Linked DNA regions of Homo sapiens. The protein of the gene in region 4 interacts with the protein of the main gene of each other region in a pairwise test. Each region holds a gene or a part of one and is shown on either strand. Other genes may lie near its edges.

What was found. The genes of interacting proteins can lie anywhere in the genome.
Region 1: the proteins of YWHAE (region 4) and WNK1 interact in binary tests that used the Homo sapiens proteins (3 or more experiments, as listed by UniProt).
Region 2: the proteins of YWHAE (region 4) and LRRK2 interact in binary tests that used the Homo sapiens proteins (3 or more experiments, as listed by UniProt).
Region 3: the proteins of YWHAE (region 4) and DCLK2 interact in binary tests that used the Homo sapiens proteins (3 or more experiments, as listed by UniProt).

Annotation. Positions count from the first base shown.
Region 1 is NC_000012.12:758,116-763,617, reverse strand, and holds part of WNK1 (serine/threonine-protein kinase WNK1), read right to left. Parts: intron 1-5,502. UniProt on the Homo sapiens protein: Serine/threonine-protein kinase component of the WNK1-SPAK/OSR1 kinase cascade, which acts as a key regulator of blood pressure and regulatory volume increase by promoting ion influx.
Region 2 is NC_000012.12:40,360,034-40,365,535, forward strand, and holds part of LRRK2 (leucine-rich repeat serine/threonine-protein kinase 2), read left to right. Parts: exon of another isoform or gene 1-3,151; intron 3,152-3,368; coding exon 3,369-3,521; intron 3,522-4,808; coding exon 4,809-5,017; coding exon of another isoform or gene 5,018-5,100; exon of another isoform or gene 5,101-5,502. UniProt on the Homo sapiens protein: Serine/threonine-protein kinase which phosphorylates a broad range of proteins involved in multiple processes such as neuronal plasticity, innate immunity, autophagy, and vesicle trafficking.
Region 3 is NC_000004.12:150,248,482-150,253,983, forward strand, and holds part of DCLK2 (serine/threonine-protein kinase DCLK2), read left to right. Parts: intron 1-1,086; coding exon 1,087-1,203; intron 1,204-4,992; exon of another isoform or gene 4,993-5,075; intron 5,076-5,502. UniProt on the Homo sapiens protein: Protein kinase with a significantly reduced C(a2+)/CAM affinity and dependence compared to other members of the CaMK family.
Region 4 is NC_000017.11:1,353,788-1,359,289, forward strand, and holds part of YWHAE (14-3-3 protein epsilon), read right to left. Parts: intron 561-5,502; coding exon 424-560; intron 1-423. UniProt on the Homo sapiens protein: Adapter protein implicated in the regulation of a large spectrum of both general and specialized signaling pathways. Binds to a large number of partners, usually by recognition of a phosphoserine or phosphothreonine motif.

The DNA.
Region 1 (5,502 bases), on a different chromosome or scaffold from region 4:
ACAATTCATAACTTTTTCTTTTTTTTTTGAGACAGAGTTTCCCTCTTGTCGCCCAGGCTGGAGTGCAATGGCGCAATCTTGGCTCACTGCAACCTCCACCTCCCGGGTTCAAGTGATTCTCCTGCCTCAACCTCCCAAGTAGCTGGGATTACAGGCATGCACCACCACACCCGGCTAGTTTTTTTTTTGTATTTTTAGTAGAGACAGGGTTTCACCATGTTGACTAGGCTGGTCTCCAACTTCTGACCTCAGGTTATCCACTAACCTCGGCCTCCCAAAGTGTTGGGATTACAAGCGTGAGCCACCACGCCTAGCCAACAATTCACGACTTTTAAATTGTGTGCCATTCTGACTAGTGTGATGAAATCTCGAATGGGACATGTCATCCCTTTGTTCAGCATATTCACACTGTTAATGCCACCCACCCATCTCGTCCTTTAGTCACTTAGTCTAATGGGTTATGGGATGGAAAAAGCAAAGTATGCATAGGGTTCAGTAGTGTCTGTAGCTTCAGGTATCCACGGGAGGTCTTGCAAACCTCAAAGTAAACAGAACCAAAAGATAAAAATACGGACCAGGAGTGGTGGCTCACACCTGTAATTCCAGCACTTTGGGAGGCCGAGGCTGGCGGATCGCCTGAGGTCGGGAGTTGGAGACCAGCCTGACCAACATGGAGAAACCCCACCTCTACTAAAAATACAAAATTAGCTGGGCATGGTGGCGCCTTCCTGTAATCCCAGCTACTCGGGAGGCTGAGGCAGGAGAATCCCTTGAACTCAGGAGGCAAATGTTGTGGTGAGCCGAGATCGCGCCATTGCACTCCAGCTGGGCAACAAGAGTGAAACTCTGTCTCAAAAAAAAAATGAAAAGCAGGAGAAAAAAATAACCATTATCCCCTAAGAAGAAGAGTGGGGACTACTGGAATCTCTACACTTCCCCCTGTATGCCTTTAATCTATTTTTGGGCAATTACTGCTATGCAAATCTAACCAATTAACTTCTCTGTTTAAAACTCAACTCTTCAGTTACTCTCTACTTTCTACACATAAGAACAGTCCGCCCTCCACATCCTCAGGTTCCATATCCACATGTTCTGCATCCATGGATTCAACTAACTGCAGATGAAAATATTGGGGGAAAAAACAATAACAAAACACAATAATAAAAAACAACATGAATTTTAAAACACTACAGTATAAAAACTATTTACATAGCACTTACATTGTATTAGGTATTATAAGTAATTTAGTGATGACTTAAACTATACGTGAGGAGCCACACCTGTAATCCCAGCGTTTTGGGAGGCAGAGGCAGATGGATCACTTGAGGTCAGGAGTTCGAGACCAGCCTGGCCAACGTGATGAAACCCCATCTCTACTAAAAATACAAAAATTAGTTGGGCATGGTAGCATGTGCCTGTAATCCCAGCTACTCGGGAGGCTGAGGCATGACAATCGCTTGAACCCAGGAGGCAGAGGTAGCAGTGAGCTGAGATTGTGCCACTGTACTCCAGCCTGGGCAACAGAGCAAGACTCAGCCTCAAAAAAAAAAAAAAATTAAATTAAAAAATAAACTATACAGGAGGATGTACTACTGTAGGTTATATGAAAATACACCATTTTATTTAAGAGACTTGTGCATTTGTGAATTTTGGTACCCTGGGGTGGGGGCTGTCTGGAACCAATCTCCTGTGTATACTGACGGATGACTGTGTGTGAGAGGGGCAATATGGAGAGTTCAAAGAACATTTTAATATGACAATGATATCTAGTAACTCTTTAGCATGTTAAAGAGATAAATCTGTTGCATTTCCCGATTTACCTTAATCCACAATAATCTACCAGTCCATGGAAGGAGATGATCCACATAAAGATAGATATATCAGGTTATGTAGCTCAAAACTCTTAGCCATGAAAATGATCTTATCCCAAGAAATCTGTTAATCTCTATCTAGTAACAGAGAATGTGCACATTAATCATTTGATTCACTAATTAATTTCATCTCTCACTGTTTGGTTTATACATTAGTGTGTGTTTGGTTAACTAGACCATCTACCACGTATCTACTGACAAAAATAATATTGTCTCTGAGAAGCTGAACCTCAGCTGCACAAAAGGTATCTGCAGGAATGACTGTGGTTTTTCTTAACTAACCTGAGTATGATGATTACAACAAGCAAATTTCCAAACACTCTTAAATTCAAACTGTTAAAATTCTTAAGAATTCTTACATTCCTGAGAAAATTATTTGCTTGTTATGACTAACAGCTTATCTGAGGACTCTTCTAAAAAATCATTCCAACATATTCATTTAGCATAATGTATTTAATATGGTAATTTGGCAAAGCCAAGATTCAAGTCACAACACTAAAAAGTAAATTATTTATGAAACCCCACCTGAAAAATCTAAATTAATGTAAGTGAAGGTGGAGATATTATATGATCAATTAAGTTGGCCACAAAACCACAGCTTACTGATGCTTTTCCTCTTATGTAAAAATCACAAATAACCAATCTTTTAAAAACTACATATAGACCAGGAACGGCGGCTCATGCCTGTAATCCCAGCACTTTAAGAGGCCAAGGCAGGTGGATCACCTGAGGTCAGGAGTTTGAGACCAGCCTGTCCAACACGGTGAAACTCTGTCTCTATTAAAAATACAAAAAAAAAAAAAAAATTAGCCGGGTGTGGTTGTGGGTGCCTGTAATCCCAGCTACTCTGGAGGCTGAGGCAGGAGAATCGCTTGAACACAGGAGGTGGAGGTTTCAGTGAGCCAAGATCCCAAGATCACGCCACTGCACTCCAGCCTGGGCGACAGAGCAAGACCCCATCAAAAACAACAACAATAAAAAAAAAACTACATATAAAATTAAGCCTGCTACCTGTCAAAGGCATAATCATCTTCCAAATAAAATATTAAGAGCTTCTGACAATGTTTCTTCAAACTGAAAAGCTCCCCTGTTAAGATTTGAGAAATTAAGTTGACAAAGCAAAAAGCTCCTAAAATCCAACTAAGTTTAATATATTCCATTTGTAATAGGTGACAATTTATAGCCTTCTAAATGAATATTTAAGTATTCTGTTATATTTTATATAACACTTAACATTTTTCAAAGTACATTCACATAGTATTTCAGTGGATCTTCAACAATCCTAAATCAGTAAGACATATTGCTAATAAATGAGCATTATAGATTAAGTTCCTTACTCAAAGCTCAGAAAATTGGGTAATCTAGAACTCAAGGGTTCTGCCTTGGTGCTCCTTTTCATTGTATAGTATTCTATTACACCATAGTGAACTTTCCAAAGACTAATGGATTAGACAAAATATATAAACAATTTCAATATGATAAATAAATACTATAAGAATTATATATGAGATCCACCAAAAGAAAATATGCTTTCTAGATACATGCAAAGATGAGACAAGGATCTTAGCAGATTCTGAAAATAAGCAGTTCAGAAAGATTGGCATTTGGGTGATGGGTCACAAAATTAAAATGTTAGGCAAAGGCCAGGTAGAGCTAAGGAATTTAAAAGCACCAGTAACATAAAGATCAATACCTGCTTTCCTCCTCCTCCAAGAACAGTAGTTAAGTTTTGCTATATGATTTTTCAAGCATAAATATAAACAAACAAAATCTTCACAGATTCCCTCAAAAGGACAACCTAAAAAAGATGCTGCATCATCACAGTTAATATTTATGTGGCAGGCCCTATCCTACATGTTTTATATATGTTCATTCATTTAATCAGCACAACTCTATAAAATGGGTACTCTTTTTTACACCCATTTTACAGACAGGAAACTGTAGCACAAAACTTGCTCAAGGTGACACAATTATGTAGCTGAGCCTTGATTTGAGCCCAGGCAATCTAGTTCTTAACTACTATGTTACAAGGCAGAAAAATGGCCTCTTCAAACATAAACTGAGGTCATGCTAAGTCTCACCTATTCCTGCAGACCAGGTTTTAAAACAAAACAAAACGGCTGAGCATGGTGGCTCAAGCCTGTAATCCCAGGACTTTGGGAGGCCAAGGCGGGCAGATCACGAGGTCAGGTGTTCAAGACCAGCCTGGCCAACATGGTGAAACCCCATCTCTACTAAAAATACAAAAATTAGCCGGGCGTGGTGGCGCTCGCCTGTAATCCCAGCTACTCAGGGGGCTGAGGCAGGAGCATTGCTGGAACCCGGGAGGTGGAGGTTGCAGTGAGCCGAGATCGCGCCACTGTACTCCAGCCTGGGCGACAGAGTGAGACTCTGTCTCAAAAACAAAAAAACAAAAAACTCAAACAAAATGCAAGTTACTAAATATATAATTTAAATTATCAATATAATTTAAAGAACTGGTATAGCAAAGGTGTACTAACGGTAATTATGAATTATTTCATAGTATGCTAAATATTTTCAGAAATGATAATTGAGTACAGCTACTCTTGCTGCTTTTACAGCTTTATCTAAAAAAATGTAAAAACTACCAGAAAACCCAAATAACAGGTTTAGGATGATTTCTGAAAATGAGAGCCCAGTTTTAGTTGAATGTTTCCATAGGGATGAACTAAGATGAATTTTATTTATATTTATATACATATATTTTTTATTTTTTGAAATTCTTTGATAAGCTGCTGGTGGAATAAGATAAATTTTAAATGACTAGGCTCTTGCATCAGAATTTGAATGTCAAGAAATGAATTGTCACAAAGCAACAATAGATTCCTGGTTTGTTTTACACAAAAACAACCTCTTTCCAGGTTTTTAGATTACTTCTCAGACTGTGTTACTACGGGTCAGAAAAAAGGTAAGAGAAAAAAATTTGCCAATACTCCTAATCGGTGACTTTGAGGATTTAAGAACAAACTCCAAAAACTATTCCCTGAGACGGAAAGTTACGCTGATTCTCATCCTAAAAAATAAGGAATGTGGCACAAATTTAAAAGATAAGAGGGAAAAAATCACCAACATTCAAATAGAGAGATTCAGTTCAATTAGATATTTTAAGAACTATAGCAGACCATCCTGGCTAACAAGGTGAAACCCCGTCTCTACTAAAAATACAAAAAATTAGCCGGGCACGGTGGCGGGCGCCTGTAGTCCCAGCTACTCGGGAGGCTGAGGCAGGAGAATGGCGTGAACCCAGGAAGTGGAGCTTGCAGTGAGCCGAGATTGCGCCACTGCAGTCCGCAGTCCGGCCTGGGCGACAGAGCGAGACTCCGTCTCAAAAAAAAAAAAAAAAAAAAAAAAAGAACTATAGCAAAGAAATAAATGATGGTTTCTTAATCACAGAACCACATCCCATTTCTGTAACACTGCTATACTATTCACAAAATATTAATGTCATGTACTCATGACACACAGTCTTAATAAAAGACAGAGAAAAATAAGCAGTTAAGTATATTGGAGCTTCAACAAAAATATGATTTAACCTCTCTTTTCAGGTAGATGTGGAAACAATCTCATCAACATATAACGCATCATGTGAACTCTTCAGAGGCAACTTGGG
Region 2 (5,502 bases), on a different chromosome or scaffold from region 4:
TTATCACATTCCTCAGTGATAAGCAGTATAGGATTGTGGATAAGAGCATAAATCATAGTTCAGATATTGCTTTGCCATCTATTGGTTTTGTGAACTTGGGCAATAACCTTTCACATCTTCAGTCATCTCTTACCTGAGGATTGTAATATTCTCTATCTCAAAGAGATATTTGGAGGAGTAAATAAGAATGTTAATATATGGATCTTAATTAACATAATGACCAGCACCTGGTAAGCTGTCAATAAACATTAGCTATTATTATTATTATTAGCTTTGAGTCACAAATCCCTACCTTAGGGAATATCCTGGTTTCCCATTATCCATCAAATTTCCCAAGATTGGCACTTGGGAGTAATCTTTGACTCCTTTGTTTTTTGCTCCCTTTATCCACTTGACCCTCCTAATTGTCATTTGAATCTTTGTACTTCTCACTGTTCTCAGTGCTGGTACCATGGGCCAGACTGCCATCCATTATCTGTGGCCACATTAACAAGAGCATCCAGTTCTCACCCTCTGATTATACTCTCTTCAACATATTTTCAGCATTGCAGACAGAGGGACCTTTCTAAAATGTACATCAATCTGATGCAATTTTCCTGCTTAAAACCCTTCAGTGGTATCCCATTGTCCTTTATATGAAGTCCAAATTCCTTAAGACAGCCTACTGGGCCCTTCATAATTCAGTGCTTGCTTACCTGTCTAGATTCATATTTTGCAAGCTTTTTGCCATCTGTGCTTTACCCAAACTGAAATTGACTCAGATCTCTAAGACAACCTGTTATTACCTTTCACCCCCAACCTTTGAATGTGGTCTTCTCCTTACCTGGATGACTATTATGCCCCCTGCCTATTTCAGTCCAAGCACCACTTGCTCTGAGTGGCAGGTTAGGTGACTTTGTGCTTCCATTGCATCTAATGTTTTCCTTCACAGTAGCTATAATTGTATTTGTTAAAGTAGTTTCTCAATACCACTAAATCTACTGGCTTTCAACATTGGCTGTGCATTTAGAAACCACTAGGTAGCTGAAAATAATATGATACCTGGGCCCTACCTCAGACCAATTAAATCAGACCAGTTAAGCCTGGGATGGGGATCAGATTTTTTTTTTCAGGTTCTCAAGTGATTCTAAAGTATATTTGAGGTTAAGATATACTGCGGAGTGCAGTGTATTATAAGTTCCCATGAATGAGGATTTTTATTTCTGTCTTTACATATTTATTTACTAGTATGTGGTTAACATTTGGATCAACTCATTCTCATTCTGTAATACCCACATTTTAAAAAATGAATGTAAAAATGTCTTTTATTATTTTTATTTTTCAAATTTAATTTTAGATTCCAGGAATACATGTGCAGGTTTGTTACAAAAGTATAGTGCGTGATGCTGAGGTTTGGAATACAACTGAACTCACAACCCAGAAAGTGGGCATAGTGCTTGATAGGTAGTTTTTCATCTTTGCTCCCCTTCCTGTAATTTCCACTTTTAACCCAATTATACAAGCCTGAAAACCTTTAAAAAGAAAGGGCCTCCAGTTTATTTTTTTATTTCATAGCACATTTTATGGGATTATGGATATCAGTTAACTCTTTAAAGTTCCATATAAGATTTGGAGCATAGATGCTTTACTAGAGAGCATCCATAAAGATCAAGCTCTCAAAGATGCTCATCTCCCAAAAGAGATTGGGACCTAGATGCATAAACACTTAAATATAAATATTTGCTCTCTTCTGAACAAGTATCTCCTGTGGCCTTGGTCTCTACCCCACAAAACAGACATCACATCACTAATCAGGGGTTGCCTCATCATCAGTACCCTCATCATCATCAGTACACACCGACTGAGAGGCATGTTGGGTAATGAAAGATGACTGCCTTTGAAGCCGGAAGACTCCATAGGACTTTTGGAGTTCTAGGTCTGCAACATGTTTTTAGTCCTAGGTCGGCAAGCATGATGTTAGTCATAGGACCTTGAGCAAATTATTTAGCATTTGTACATGTTTCTTTCTACTATTAAAAACATTGAGATTTATCATATTTTATGTTTTTTTATTAAGGATCAAGCAAGATAACACACAAAAGTATTTTATAAAATACGGAAATTCCATGCAAAACTTTGTCCTAATTGGAACTATTTTCTATTAAATACAGCAAATATCCAAGAAGGAATTACCTAAAGCGTAGTGGCTCTCTGACAACACATCATATTTTTACCTCCTTTTCCAGAATAGAAAGAAAAGGGGGAGGAAAAAAAATCTTCCTACTCTAGGATATACTAATGATTGTTAAATCTTTATGGTATTTTCATGTTATCTATCTGATTTAAATGCAATTTTGACTATTTTTACATATTCCTCGTTGTTCATTCATACTGTAGTGCCTTCTTCTATTCCCCCACTTAACAGACTGCTTGATTATATCAGAGGTGCTTATCTGTGCAACTGTTTACTGGACGAGGGGTATGTAGAAAATACATTGTCCTCATCCTTATGAAATTACACTCATAATCTAGTGTGAGGGATGCACTAATAAAGACAATTTTATATTTAATAAGGTCTATAATATGACAGTGACACCAGTGGGGAAAAGGGACTGGTTGGTCTATTTTGATAGGTCAGGGAAGAAATCCAGAGGAGCCGACATTTAAGTTCATCCTCAAAGGCCAAGTAGGAGTTTGCCATGCTGATGTGGCCCAAGGTAGCCAATCTGTTTGTGAAATATGTACAATGCCAGATGTCTTAGGTTGAAAGGGAAATATTTTAAGGTGTTCGTAATTTTTCTTTATGTTTAAAAGGGGAAAATGGCAAATATTTTACTTTCTGTTTATGTTTGGATGATGTGGATTTTTGTTTTCTATAATTTGACTGGCTTAACTGCAAAGATATCCCTTGCTTTAAAATTTGAAGACACTGCAACTAAATTTTATTTCAGCATTTTATATTTTATAACTCTAGGTATAAAAGGCTAACACTTAATTTTCTGAGCATTCATGAAACAAAGTTTTGCAAGAACATTCAAAAGTTACAGATATAATATTTCCTTCAGAAATTTAGATATAGTACAAAATTCTACAAAGAGCCACATAGAATTGAAACTAAAAGTAAGACCAAAGTAAACATTGGACATAATCTTTATTTTATTATCACAAGAAATTAATATAAAGTAACCAAAAGTAAGTAAAGTACCAAAGCATGTTATATATTCAATTCAGAATGGTTAGGGAAGAATATGAAATAATTGCAATAGTCTAGCTTGTTTAGTTTTCAAAATAGTGTTTTTACATTAAGAACTAATATAAGGTTGTATTACACGTAGAAATTTTAAGAAGAAAACAAATAGTGATGACTTTCTATTTTTTTTTCTCTGTAGGTTTTCTTATGCAGCTTTCAGTGATTCCAACATCATAACAGTGGTGGTAGACACTGCTCTCTATATTGCTAAGCAAAATAGCCCTGTTGTGGAAGTGTGGGATAAGAAAACTGAAAAACTCTGTGGACTAATAGACTGCGTGCACTTTTTAAGGTAAATTCTGTGGTTTTTAATTTTATTCCCAAAAGAATTATCTTTGCACTTCATGTGTCACAGAGGAAGGATTTTTCTTCCTTTCTGCCTCTGAATAGAGAATTTTTTTAAAATGCAGAAAAAAATTTGTAATGCTTCTCAGCACCATCTTTTCAGATCAAGAAAATTTTGTCTTCAGAACATAAAAGAATAGGCACATAATGTGCATAGTTTTCTCATGGTATTACAAAGAATGTTCTCGAATGAAAATACTACATTATTGAAAATGAGCATATTGGAGTCTCTGCTAGCTTTGACATAGTTCTGTCACAGTGTCAAATATACTATTTATAATTAAATTATGGGCCCCAGGATTATCTGCTCTAAAGAAAAAGAGTCACAAAATAATAGACAAATATGGGGGGAAATGCAATGGACTGACCGAGGCGCTAAGGAGTGGGGATCAAGACCCCAGAATGAGAGCATAGTGCTTAGTCTGATGCAGCCTGTGAGTGACAAATCCATAGCAAGCACATTCTTTCTGTGCTGGTGCTGAGAAACAGGACCATTTTCAAGCTTATTTGCTAGCCACTTTATATTTTTATTTTGTTTTGATTTTACCATATAGATCTATGATACTCTTGAGAACATTTTAGATTACACACTATATCTGTAAAAGGATACTTCAAAGTTTCCTGTCTTAGATTCATCTGACAGTTTTTCTATGGATTGTGAGAAGGGCTCACAGTTTATGTTCAGAAGGGCCAACAGGTCTCCTTGATAAAGGGTTCCTTACTTCCTGAAGTACCAAAACGATTAGGATTCTTTTATTTCTGGACACTTCATTTTTGTCATGAATTAGACTATTCACTGGTTCTGGGAAAAAATTCAGTGGTTTGTATCGATATCTTTTACATGTGAATGACTATAATTTTATGTTCCTTTGTAACATTGAGACTTCATGTAAAACTTTTGACTCTAACTTTTTTTTTTCTTTATCCTGGGCACATGTATGCTATTTTTACTGAATTAGATAGCTTTGGTATTTATAAAAATTGTATCCCTCTTATTCATAATTTCCTGAAAATGAAGGGCTATTGTTATCTTTGATAATTTATGCTTCAAGTAAAGAAGTGTGGCTCTTTGGCATCTGTATTTAGCAAAATTTGCTTTGTATAATTTTAATGATGCATAATGGTGGTGGTGTCATGTTTTAATAATTTAAAATGTTGTTTATGTTATCATATGTAAATAGCATTTATCTCTTAATTGGTGGTAAAATTATTAATGTATACTTTATGGTTCTAGGGAGGTAATGGTAAAAGAAAACAAGGAATCAAAACACAAAATGTCTTATTCTGGGAGAGTGAAAACCCTCTGCCTTCAGAAGAACACTGCTCTTTGGATAGGAACTGGAGGAGGCCATATTTTACTCCTGGATCTTTCAACTCGTCGACTTATACGTGTAATTTACAACTTTTGTAATTCGGTCAGAGTCATGATGACAGCACAGCTAGGCAAGTTTCTTTCCTTTAGATATTTTTCATATTCTCTAAGTCTTATAAAATATGCCTTTATTTTACGTTTACATTTTCTCTGAACTTTCCAGTGTCATATGGATGGTCTTGGAGGGTCACACAGTGAAACATAAGACTGGTATAAATTGTGAATAGGGTCATTACAGAAGTGGAGGGAGTAAATGCTCTCAGTCCCACAAGAGAAGCAGATTACTGCAGCTGAACACTCAGTTTGGGTCTTACTTGCTTTTTTCCTTTTTACCTAAGGCAAAAATGGGAAATACATGGTATTGAATATATTTTACTTTTTGAGCAAAGAAAATAAAGAAAATGTTTGTTTTAATCATAGTCTAGCCTCCCAGCTTGTTAAAGAATCTCATTTGGTTTTTCATTCTATAACAAATCTTTTTTCTTGCAGCAATACATGCTGAACTGCACAACCTACAAATATTGACAAATCATATTTTACTCAAACTTTGTCTTTT
Region 3 (5,502 bases), on a different chromosome or scaffold from region 4:
TCCAAGCTCCATGGTAGATGTCTGTCTGTCCCATTGAGCAAGTAGCATAAAGATGGCTCCCCAAGAAAGCAGTTGGCACTAGGGTCCCAGTCTTAGACCCTGCCCCGCGAGTCACCTGGGCAAGTCACTGTCCCTTTCTTGGCCCCAGTTTCCTTATCTGCAAAATGGAATTGGCCACAGTGCTCCTTCAGGAGGCTTTTAGCTCTCGTCTTCTGCGGTTTGGGGTTTGAGAGTTTCCAGGGTTTGCCCTGGAGATGAGCCTGTTTCAGACCCTGACCTTTGTGCCTTCAGGGAACGTGCTCTCAGGAGACCTCTTGCTGTTGATGGGGAGGCTGAGACAGGATCGCTTCAGAGCTGAGTGGAGACACATGATATTGACTAGAGTTCCCTCCCAGAGGCTCAGGTGGTCTCTGGGAGGGAAACATGATCCAATAAATGGGGACTGTGGGAATTACATTTCTCCCATTTCCGTCATTTCTGGGAGGCTCCAGGAGAGTGAAGTTAGTTTAATTAGCCCAGGGCTTTGTTGACTCCGGTTGGGAAGCTCCCTGTGTACCTCCAATGCCCCACCCACCCACCATCCAGGTGCAGTTTCTCTGGACCCTGCTTGCTGCTCTCTTGGGCTAAATGACGTGGTTCTTGGACCAAGTAGCTAAGATACCACATTTTTTTTTATTATAAGCAATAAAGACTAACAACTAAATGAATTCTTGATTAAAGTGAAAAACAATGATCTTTGATGCTTCCATGGGAGGGATCATACTAAATCGTGTGCCTTGGGTGAGGGTCTCAGTAGCCTAAAGTGTGTCCTGCTTTGTGTCCCGGGAGACCTGTGCCCTCTCCTGGGCCTACTCTAGTCCTGAGGGGCAGAGGGAATGGTGTGGGGTCTTTCTGAGGGCATGGGCCTACTGAATAACAATAGTTATTTTTGAAAGATCATTGTTTCCCTAATTCTGTGGCTAAGAGGGGCCCATTTAGGAAGAGGTCAGGAGGGTGGTTGAGGCGGGGAGGGGGACTCTTAAGGAAAAGACAACTCAAACGGGAGGATGGAAAAAGCATTGTATTTGATTGTTTTCTTTCCTGTAGGATGATGCCTCCCAGGAGAATAACATGCAAGCTGAGGTGACAGGTAAACTAAAACAGCACTTTAATAATGCGCTCCCCAAACAGAACAGCACTACCACCGGGGTCTCCGTCATCATGGTGAGTGGAAGGCGGCAGGTCTGGCCTGACTGCGGAGCCGGCCTTGAAGTTTTTGAATTAGGTAGCCGGGAGCTGCCCTCACATGGAAGTTGGTGCCTTCCGTAGTCCTATTTCATATGAAGATTGGCTTGGCATGTGGAGGGCACTCATTCGGCAACTCCCAGGCTTTGGGCACTGTGTGGAGGGGCTTGTGTAGGGACCAGCAGGCCTGGTGTGAGGGGTCCAGGCGTCAAGGAGCTCCTGGCTGGGCCCTCTGGGCAGCTGCTTCCACTCTTGTCTCTGCCTTCTCATCTAGAGAGACTCCCAAGCCCTGGAGGGGTGTGTTGTGTTAGGAATTAACTCCCTGCCTACCCCAAGGCCTCAGAAATAGATTATTAGAGATGTGAATTATTCTTTGAGACTTGGGATAAGAAACAGCCAAAGCTAAACATATTTCAGTTTTAAAAAATCAGTGTTTTATAAAACACAGTTTGGGGCTTTTAAAGGTACATAATCAAGGAAAAAAATATATATTCATTTTTCAGGGTTGGTAACATTTTATGAGATGTCAGTGACAACGATGGCCTTATTTTTTTCAGCCTTTTCTTCTTCCAAAATGTTTCTTAAGGCAACTCTCCTAAATACATAAACACAACAAATTAAAATGAAAAGTGACATGAGAGTAAATGAATCAAAAGGAAAAAACATTGAACCAGAGGTGAGGGCAGCACACCCGCAGCAGCTGTCCAGGCCTGAGCCAATGCAACCCTGGGCGGGAAGGCCAGCTCACCGTGAGCAGGTAGAAGCCAGCCAGCCACCCAGGCAGGGACCTTGGTTCTCCCCACACACTCCCAGGAGCAGGGAACAGGGGTGGAGTGGCCTTTCCCAGAGCTGGAGTTGGCTGCAGCAGCTTTCGAATCAGACCTGCCAAGGTGATGGGCGTCTGAGTTTCACATCTGGGCCCCCCGTGACCCCACTGAGTCCTGACAGCTAAGGATGGGCCACCTCCACAGCTCCGTCACTCGTACTTGGGACAGGCCTCTCATCCTCTGGGAAGGTCCTCCTTGTTTCCTACCCAACTAGAAGGGAAACAGTGGCATATTCTCATGGTACATGGTTGTCTGAGAGCCTTACCTAGGAAGACGCAGGGTCTAGATAGAAGCTATAAGGAAGCCACACACATAACCCACATCCCCACACCCCCAACATCCCCCACACTCCCCACACCCCCCACACCCCCCACATCCCCACACACCACAAATCCTCCACACCCCCACACCACACATCCCTCACACCCCCCACACCACACATCCCCCACACCACACATCCCTCACACCCCCCACACCACACATCCCCCACACCACACATCCCTCACACCCCCCACACCACACATCCCCCACACCACACATCCCTCACACCCCCCAACACCCCCACACACCCCCCACACCACACATCCCCCACACCACACATATCCCCCACACCCCCCACACATCCCCCACACCCCCCACATCCCCCACACCCCCCAAATCCCCCACACCACCCACATCCCCCACACCCCACACATCCCCCACACCCCCACACATCCCCCACACCCCACACATCCCCCACACCCCCCACACCACACATTCCCTCACACCCCCCACACCACACACCCCCACATACCCCCACACACTCCCATCCCCCACACCACACATCCCGCACACCCTCCACACCACACATCCCCACACACCTCACACCCCCCACACCCCCACACAACCCACATCCCCCGCACCACACATCCCCTACACCCCCCACTCTACACACCCCACACCCCAACACACCCCACATAACCCCCACATACCCCACACCCACACCCCCCACACCCCCCACACCCCCACCCCCCACATACACACCCACACACCCCACACCCCCACATAGCCCACACAGCCTACACACCCCACACCCGAACACACCCCACATACCTCCACACACCCCACACCCCCCGCCCCCACGAGCGTGCAGCACTCTGTTATATGCATTGAGCATACACCAGGTACCCCCACACACCCCCAACACCCCCACACACCCCACACCCGAACACACCCCACATTCCCCACACACCCCACACACCCCACGAGCATGCAGCACTCTGTTATATGGATTGAGCGTCCACCAGGTTCTCAGCACCCACTGGGCCGTCATTCTCTTCTGTCCCCCGGCTGCGTTTATGTGGCCACCCTCTGTGTGTCCTTGCAACTCCCCAGCTGCTCCCCTGCCAGAAAGTGTGCTCTCCCTCTCTCCCTCTCTCCCTCTCCAGACAGAGCCTGGGTTTGCAAGCTGAGTCTTTTGATGGCTTGCAGGACTTTGGGGGCGCTCTGTGCCAAAGCAGTGAGAAGGCCTTTTGAGTTGTGGTTTCCCTTGAATTTTAGCAGTGTTTTGCTGAAAGCCTGAGAAAGTCAGAGTTGTCAAAGAATTACAGCTTAGACACTTTGAAAAGAACCATCTTGATTGAGCCAACAGCATGAGAATGTTTCCAGCGATTCCCTTGCGAGAGCTAGCATTGATGGATGGGCTCAGTGGTACACAGTCTTGCTGTGCACTGCGTTGTAAGGCAGCTTCTTGGAAAATTTAGAAAAATAAAACATTAAAAATTGGCATACTCAACGTGTCATGAAAAAACCTTAAGAAGAGAGATTGGTTAGGATCAAAATTTAATAACCATGTTAAGTCTTCTGAGAGGAAGAACCTTTAACCGCCCTGTGCCCAGGGCTTAGGAGAGTTTGCTCGGAGACTGTGAAGGGAGTCATTGCTGGGGTCACTTTTTGACTCAGGGGCCCAGATAGGAATCAGTGGCCATAGGCCTGTGCCCGGCCTCTTTATGGCTGGCTCTCAGCTGACATTCTGGAATGATTAGCTGTTCTACAGGCTCTGTCCTAGATAATGACGCTTAGACCCCCTCAGACAGAACCTATGTCGTGTGGTTTACAAATACCATTTTCCATTTGCTGATGAGGAGTTCAGGACTCAAAAGACAAACCCCTGGGCTCTGACAGGGTGTTTGTGTGAACAAACAACCCGTTATTGTTTGCAGCTCTGATGGTGATTGTAAATGTTGTATGTTTATGTGTGTTCAGTTGTCATTTTGCGCATGTTGGCAGGGTGTCCCCTCTAACCCCATGTTACCTACACAACTCTGCAGGCTGTTAGCTCAGAGGAACTGCTGATGTCATGATCCCATTCAGTACCTACAGGGAAATTCAATCAGTCTTGCCTCTGGTGGCACCCATTCTCGATGGCCAAAACACCAGCCTGTGACTTTTGGGCTGTCCCAAAAAGTGGGAGGGGAAGGCCTGCTGCTGATCCTCCCCTGGCGCAGGACCTGGTCTGGGGCATGGTTGTGTGGGGGAACTTGCGATGCTGCTGTATTGTCCTCCTCGTCCTCCTCATCCTCCTCGTCCTCCTCATCCTCCTCATCCTCCTCATCCTCCTCACGTCACTGTGTGTCCTGTCTTCGGAACAGTTTTAAGTGTTTTTACATTAAAAATAACCTCAAAATGACTCTCCCTGGTACTCATAGGTCCTCATAACTGAGACTGTGGGGCCAACCTGGTTTTCTGCAGATACAAATGATAGTGGAAATAGTGTCAACCGTCTGGAGGTTGAATCATCAGATAACTTACAGACAGGACCTTCCCATCTGCTGTCACCCTAGTGTTCTCATCCCCAGAGCTGGGGCCTGAGACTTCAGTGAGAAAATGATGGGCTAGAAATTGGTCCATAAAGGTGAAAAAAAAGTAAAGTTGATGGTGTTATCTGCATTTTGTTTGACAGTTTGATTTGACAGTTTGAGAGGCACCTCAGAGTTTCCTTCTTTACCCCGCTGAGACAGTGGGAGAGCCTGAAGCAGAATCCTGGTATTCACCACGCTGCGTCCGACCAGCGCGCCCCATCCTCAGCCCCTCTCACGCCTGCATGCTTGTCTCAGTTTCTGATGCCGCCGTCCGGCTCTCAGCTGCTTACTGGTGTGGGTCTTTTGTACCTACTCACATCCTTTCCAGCCAGCCAAGCAGGCCCCTGGAAAACTTTATTTTCAAACTTCTCAGCTTACCACACTGCCTGCCTTTCCAGACCAACAGCTGGTGAGAGCACGGGAGGAGTCCCATAGTTCTCCTACCGATGCTGTTTCCCACTTAGGTGAAAAGTGGCTTTTCGGAAAGAGCAGCTTAAGATGGTGCCTTCGTGAAGGCTTTTGTTCTTTCTCCAGCTGCATTTCCAAAGATGAGTTTGTATCAGTAAGTGTAATCTCAGCCAGCCTTTGGGATAAGAGAAGATAATTTAATG
Region 4 (5,502 bases):
GGCCAACATTCAATTTCTCTACAGAATCCCAGAGGGAAATGGGAAACCAGTTCCCTTTTAGATAAAATATTTCAACAAAGAGAAAAACTTCATAAATACCTACTGATACCATCTGGATTTAAATACACTTAACTTCAGCCCCCTAAAATTGAATTGAATGAAGATAAAATAAACTGCTTGCTCTCCACTCCTCCTGTCCTCAACCTTTGAAACAGTGTAAAGGAAGAGCTAAACTAAGTTCCCAAAATGGAACTCCGTACTGTAGCACCATTTCCTATAAAGGCAGCAATTACAATTTCATAGAGGGCAGGCGGTGAATCTAAATTCTAGCTTGATATAACGACAAGCCAAGGAATGTCTAAAGAGAGTACAAACAAATCCTGCAACTGAAAGAGGTGCCTGTTTCACTCCGTGCTTGCTTACCGTCACCCTGCATGTCTGAAGTCCATAGTGTCAGATTATCACGTAACAACTGCATGATAAGTGTAGAGTCCTTATAGCTTTCTTCACTCAGCGTATCCAGTTCTGCAATTGCATCATCAAAAGCTGCTTTTGCCAACCTAAAGGTATTTCAATAGAAGTGTTATAAAAATTAAGTCCAAAATCAGAATTAGAAATGACATGCTAGACAGCAATCTTTTCTTCAGTTATTCCAGTTTGTAATAGTCACAATGATAATGCAAAGAAAAAGCAAATACAATAAAAATTAACTTAAAGGTATGTGGAACACTACTTCTTACTATGCTTTAAGCCTGCTACTGATATGCTATAATATACATATCGACTAATAAAATACATAGAACAACTTCCATCCTAAACCATCACCAAAAAATATACCTCCAAGTTCTAGGCAATAGTTCACTTATTTCAAAAAGTTTTGTTTGTTTGTTTTTAAGACGGAGTCTGGCTCTGTCGCCCAGGCTGGAGTGCAGTGGCGTGATCTCGGCTCACTGCAAGCTTCGCCTCTCAGGTTCATGCCATTCTCCTGCCTCAGCCTCCCGAATGGCTGGGACTACAGGCGCCCGCCACCACACCCGGCTAATTTTTTGTATTTTTAGTAGAGATGGGGTTTCACCGTGTTAGCCAGGATGGTCTCGATCTCCTGACCTCGTGATCCACCAGCCTCAGCATCCCAAAGTGCTGGGATTACAGGCGTGAGCCACCGCGCCCAGCCTAGTTTTTTTTTTTTTTTTTTTTTTTTTTTTTTTTTAAGGGATTCGTTATGTTGCCCAGGCTGGACTTGAACTCCTGCGTTCAAGCAATCTTCCGAACCTTAGCCTCTTGAGTGGCTGGGACAAACGGTACACACTACCACCCCCAAGATTTTTTAAAAAAAAAAAAAAAAAAAAAAAAAAAAAAAATTTTTTTTTTTTTTTTTTTTTTTTGGGGGACGGGGTCTCGCTCTATCACCCAGGCTGGAGTGCAGTGGCGGGATGTAGGCTAAATGCAAGCTCCGCCTCCTGGGTTCACACCATTATCCTGCCTCAGCCTCCCGAGTAGCCGGGACTACAGGCGCCCGCCACCACACCCGGCTGATTTGTTTTTATATTTTTAGCAGAGGCAGGGTTTCACCGTGTTAGCCAGGATGGTCTTGATCTTCTGACCTCGTGATGTGCCCGCCTCAGCCTCCCAAAGTGCTGGATTACAAGGTTGAGATATTTAACAAAGTATTAATGCAAAAAGAAAATCTTGGACAATACCTCAAAGTTTAAAAAAATTTAATTTCACGTTAATGGAGGCAGGGAAGCAAAGAAAATAAAAGGCAACACAGACGCCATGGAAATGTGATTATGTAAGCCATTTACAGTTTTAAAAGAAAATCCACACTTACTGAGTACTGTGTACTATGTCCAACAAACGATACGATATACCAATAGAAAAAAAAGAGACATAATCTAAGTCCACATCAACTTAAAAATTTAGAAATGGAGGGTAGACAAATACATAACTATTTTACAAGGAGGAGGCTGGCTGTGGTGGCTCATGCCTGTAATCAGCACACTTTGGGTGGCTGATGCGTGCGCGCAGATCACTTGAGGCCAGGAGTTCAAGACCAGCCGGGCCACCATGGCAAAACCTATTAAAAACACAAAAAATTAGGCCGGGTGCAGTGGCTCAAGCCTGTAATCCCAGCACTTTGGGAGGCAGAAGCGGGCGGATCACGTGGTTAGGAGATCGAGACCATCCTGGCTAACACAGTGAAACCCCGTCTCTACTAAAAATACAAAAAAATTAGCCGGGAGCAGTGGCAGGTGCCTGTAGTCCCAGCTACTTGGGAGGATGAGGCAGGAGAATGGTGTGAACCCAGGAGGCGGAGCCTGCAGTGAGCCGAGATCACGCCACTGCAGTCCAGCCTGGGCAACAGAGCAAGACTCCGTCTAAAAACACACACACACACACACACACACACACACACACACACACACACAAAATTAGCCGGGCATGGTGGCGTATGCCTGTAATCCCAGCTACTCAGGAGGCTGAGGCAGAAGAATCCCTTGAACCTGGGAGGCGGAGGTTGCAGTGAGGTGAAACTGTGCCAATGCACTCCAGCCTGGGCAAGAGAGCACAAAAACAAAAGAAGAAGAAGAATGAAGTGCTATTCCAAATAAAGTATTTCAGGGACCCAGAAGGAGGAGCAATTAAAGGGAAAGTCAAATTTGAACTAATCTCAATGGATAAGGAGAAAACAAAACACACTTCAGGTTTAAGCAGAAGCATGAGCAAAGGCATGCGAGTGACTTTAAACTGGAGCTACACGTGGGACAGCTAGACTGGAGTCTGACAAGGAAAGGTGCAACCACCAGTATTAGCTAAATAGCCACAGCTTCTTCAGTTACGATCCCTATCTGGACAAACTCAACTAGCCATTTAGAATGTTTTTACATTGGCTGGGCGCAGTGGCTCACGCCTGTAATCCCAGCACTCTGGGAGGCTGAGGCAGGTGGATCACCTGAGGTCAGGAGTTCGAGACCAGCCTGACCAAGATGGTGAAAACCTGTCTCTACTAAAAATGCAAAAAAAAAAAAAAATTCAGTCAAGCGCAGTGAAGCATGCCTATAATAGTCAACATTAAAGTTCCAATGTATCAGTTAATCCCCTTTCCTCAAACTTTGAAAGGCTTTCACTTAAAAACCCTACTTTGCTTAAGCAGTTGTCCTCAAACAAACCAAAAAAAAACACATACAAAAACCAAAAGGGGCCGGGCGCGGTGGCTCACGCCTGTAATCCCAGCACTTTGGGAGGCCGAGGAGGGCAGATCACGAGGTCAGGAGATCGAGACCATCCTGGCTAACACAGGGAAACCCCATCTCTATTAAAAATACAAAAAATAGGCCGGGCGCGGTGGCTCACACCTGTAATCCCAGCACTTTGGGAGGCCGAGGCGGGTGGATCACGAGGTCAGGAGATCGAGACCATCCTGGCTAACACGGTGAAACCCCATCTCTACTAAAAATACCAAAAATTAGCCGGGCGTGGTGGCGGGCGCCTGTAGTCCCAGCTACTCGGGAGGCTGAGGCAGGAGAATGGCGTGAACCCGGGAGGCAGAGCTTGCAGTGAGCCGAGATCGCGCTACTGCACTCCAGCCTGGGGGACATAGCGAGACTCCGTCTCAAAAAAAAAAAAAAAAAAATACAAAAAATTAACCGGGCGTGGTGGCGGGTGCCTGTAGTACCAGCTACTTGGGAGGCTGAGGCGAGAGAATCGCCTGAACCCAGGAGGCTGAGCTTTCAGTGAGCTGAGATCACGCCACTGTACTCCAGCCACAGCAGCAGAGTGAGACTCCGTCAAAATAAAAAAAAAAAGCAAAAAAACCATTTTGCTACTGCAATATTTACTGTAAAAATTTAAAATAGGCTGGGTGCAGTGGCTCACGCCTGTAATCTCGGCACTTTGGGAGGCCGAGGTGGCTGGATCACTTAAGGTGAGGTGTCCAAGACCAGCCTGGCCAACACTGTGAAAACCCATCTCTACATAAAAATACAAAAATTAGCTGGGTATGGTGGCGGGCGTCTGTAATCCCAGCTACCTGGGAGGCTGAAGCAGGAGAATCGCTTGAAACCGGGAGGCAGAGGTTGCAGTGAGCTGAGATTGCACCACTGCACTCCAGCCTGGGAAACACAGCGAGACTCTCCTCTCGGGGGAAAAAAAAAAAGAAAAAGACAATAGCAAAAAACAACAACAACAACAAAATGCCAACCTACAGAAGAGGAGAAAATACTCACAAACCATTTACTTGCTAAGAGGTTACTATCTGGAATAATGAACTCTCAACACTTAACAAACGAAAAAAACATGAATTCAAAAATGGGCAAAAGGGCCTGGTGCAGTGGCTCAGGCCTGTATTCTCAGCATTTTGGGAGGCTAAGGCAAGAGGATTACTTGAGGCCAGGATTTCAAGACCAGCTTCGGCAACACAGCCAGACCCTGCCTCTACAAAACAAAACAACAAAAAAAAATTTTTTTTTTGAGACGGAGTCTCGCTCTGTCGCCCAGGCTGGAGTGCAGTGGCGTGATCTTGGCTCACTGCAAGTTCCGCCTCCCAGGTTCACGCCATTCTCCTGCCTCAGCCTCCCGAGTAGCTGGGACTACAGGCGCCCGCCACCACGCCCGGCTGATTTTTTGTATTTTTAGTAGAGACGGGGTTTCACCACGTTAGCCACGATGGTCTCGATCTCCTGACCTCGTGATCTGCCCTCCTCGGCCTCCCAAAGTGCTGGGATTACAGGCGTGAGCCACTGCACGCAGCCCAAAAAAAATTTAAAAATTGGCCGGGCGCAGTGGCTCATGCCTGTAATCCCAGCACTTTGGGAGGGAGGCTGAGGTCAGGAGTTTGAGACCAGCCTAACCAAGATAGTGAAACCTCGTCTCTACTAAAAATGCCCCCAAAAATTAGCCAAGCATGGTGGCACATGCCTGTAATCCCAGCTACTTGAGAGGCTGAAGCACCAGAATCGCTTGAATCTGGGAGGTGGAGGTTGCAGTGAGCTGCGATCGCACCACTGTACTCCAGCCTGGCCAGCAGAGCGAGACTCCATCTTAAAAAAAAAAAAAAAAAAGGGCTGGCCAAGCACAGTGGCTCACACCTGTAATCCCAGAACTTTGGGAGGCCGAGGCGGGCAGATCACACGAGGTCAGGAGTTCGAGACTAGCCTGGCCAACACTGTGAAACCCCATCCCTACTAAAAATACAAAAAATTAGCCAGGCATGGTGGCAGGCGCCTATAATCCCAGCTACTTTGGATGCTGAGGCAGGAGAATCGCTTGAACCTGGAAGGCAGAGGTTGCAGTGGGCCAAGATCACGCCACTGCACTCCAGCCTGGGTGACAGTGCCAGGCTCTCCCTCAAAAAAAAGAAAAAAGAAAAAAAAAAGGAAAAGAAAAGGCCAGGTATGGTGGCATCCACCTCTAGTGACAGCTACTTGGAAGGCTCAGGTAGGCGAATCGGCTGAGCCCAGGAAGCCAAGGCTGCAGTGAGCTATGAGTGCACAACTGCAGAGA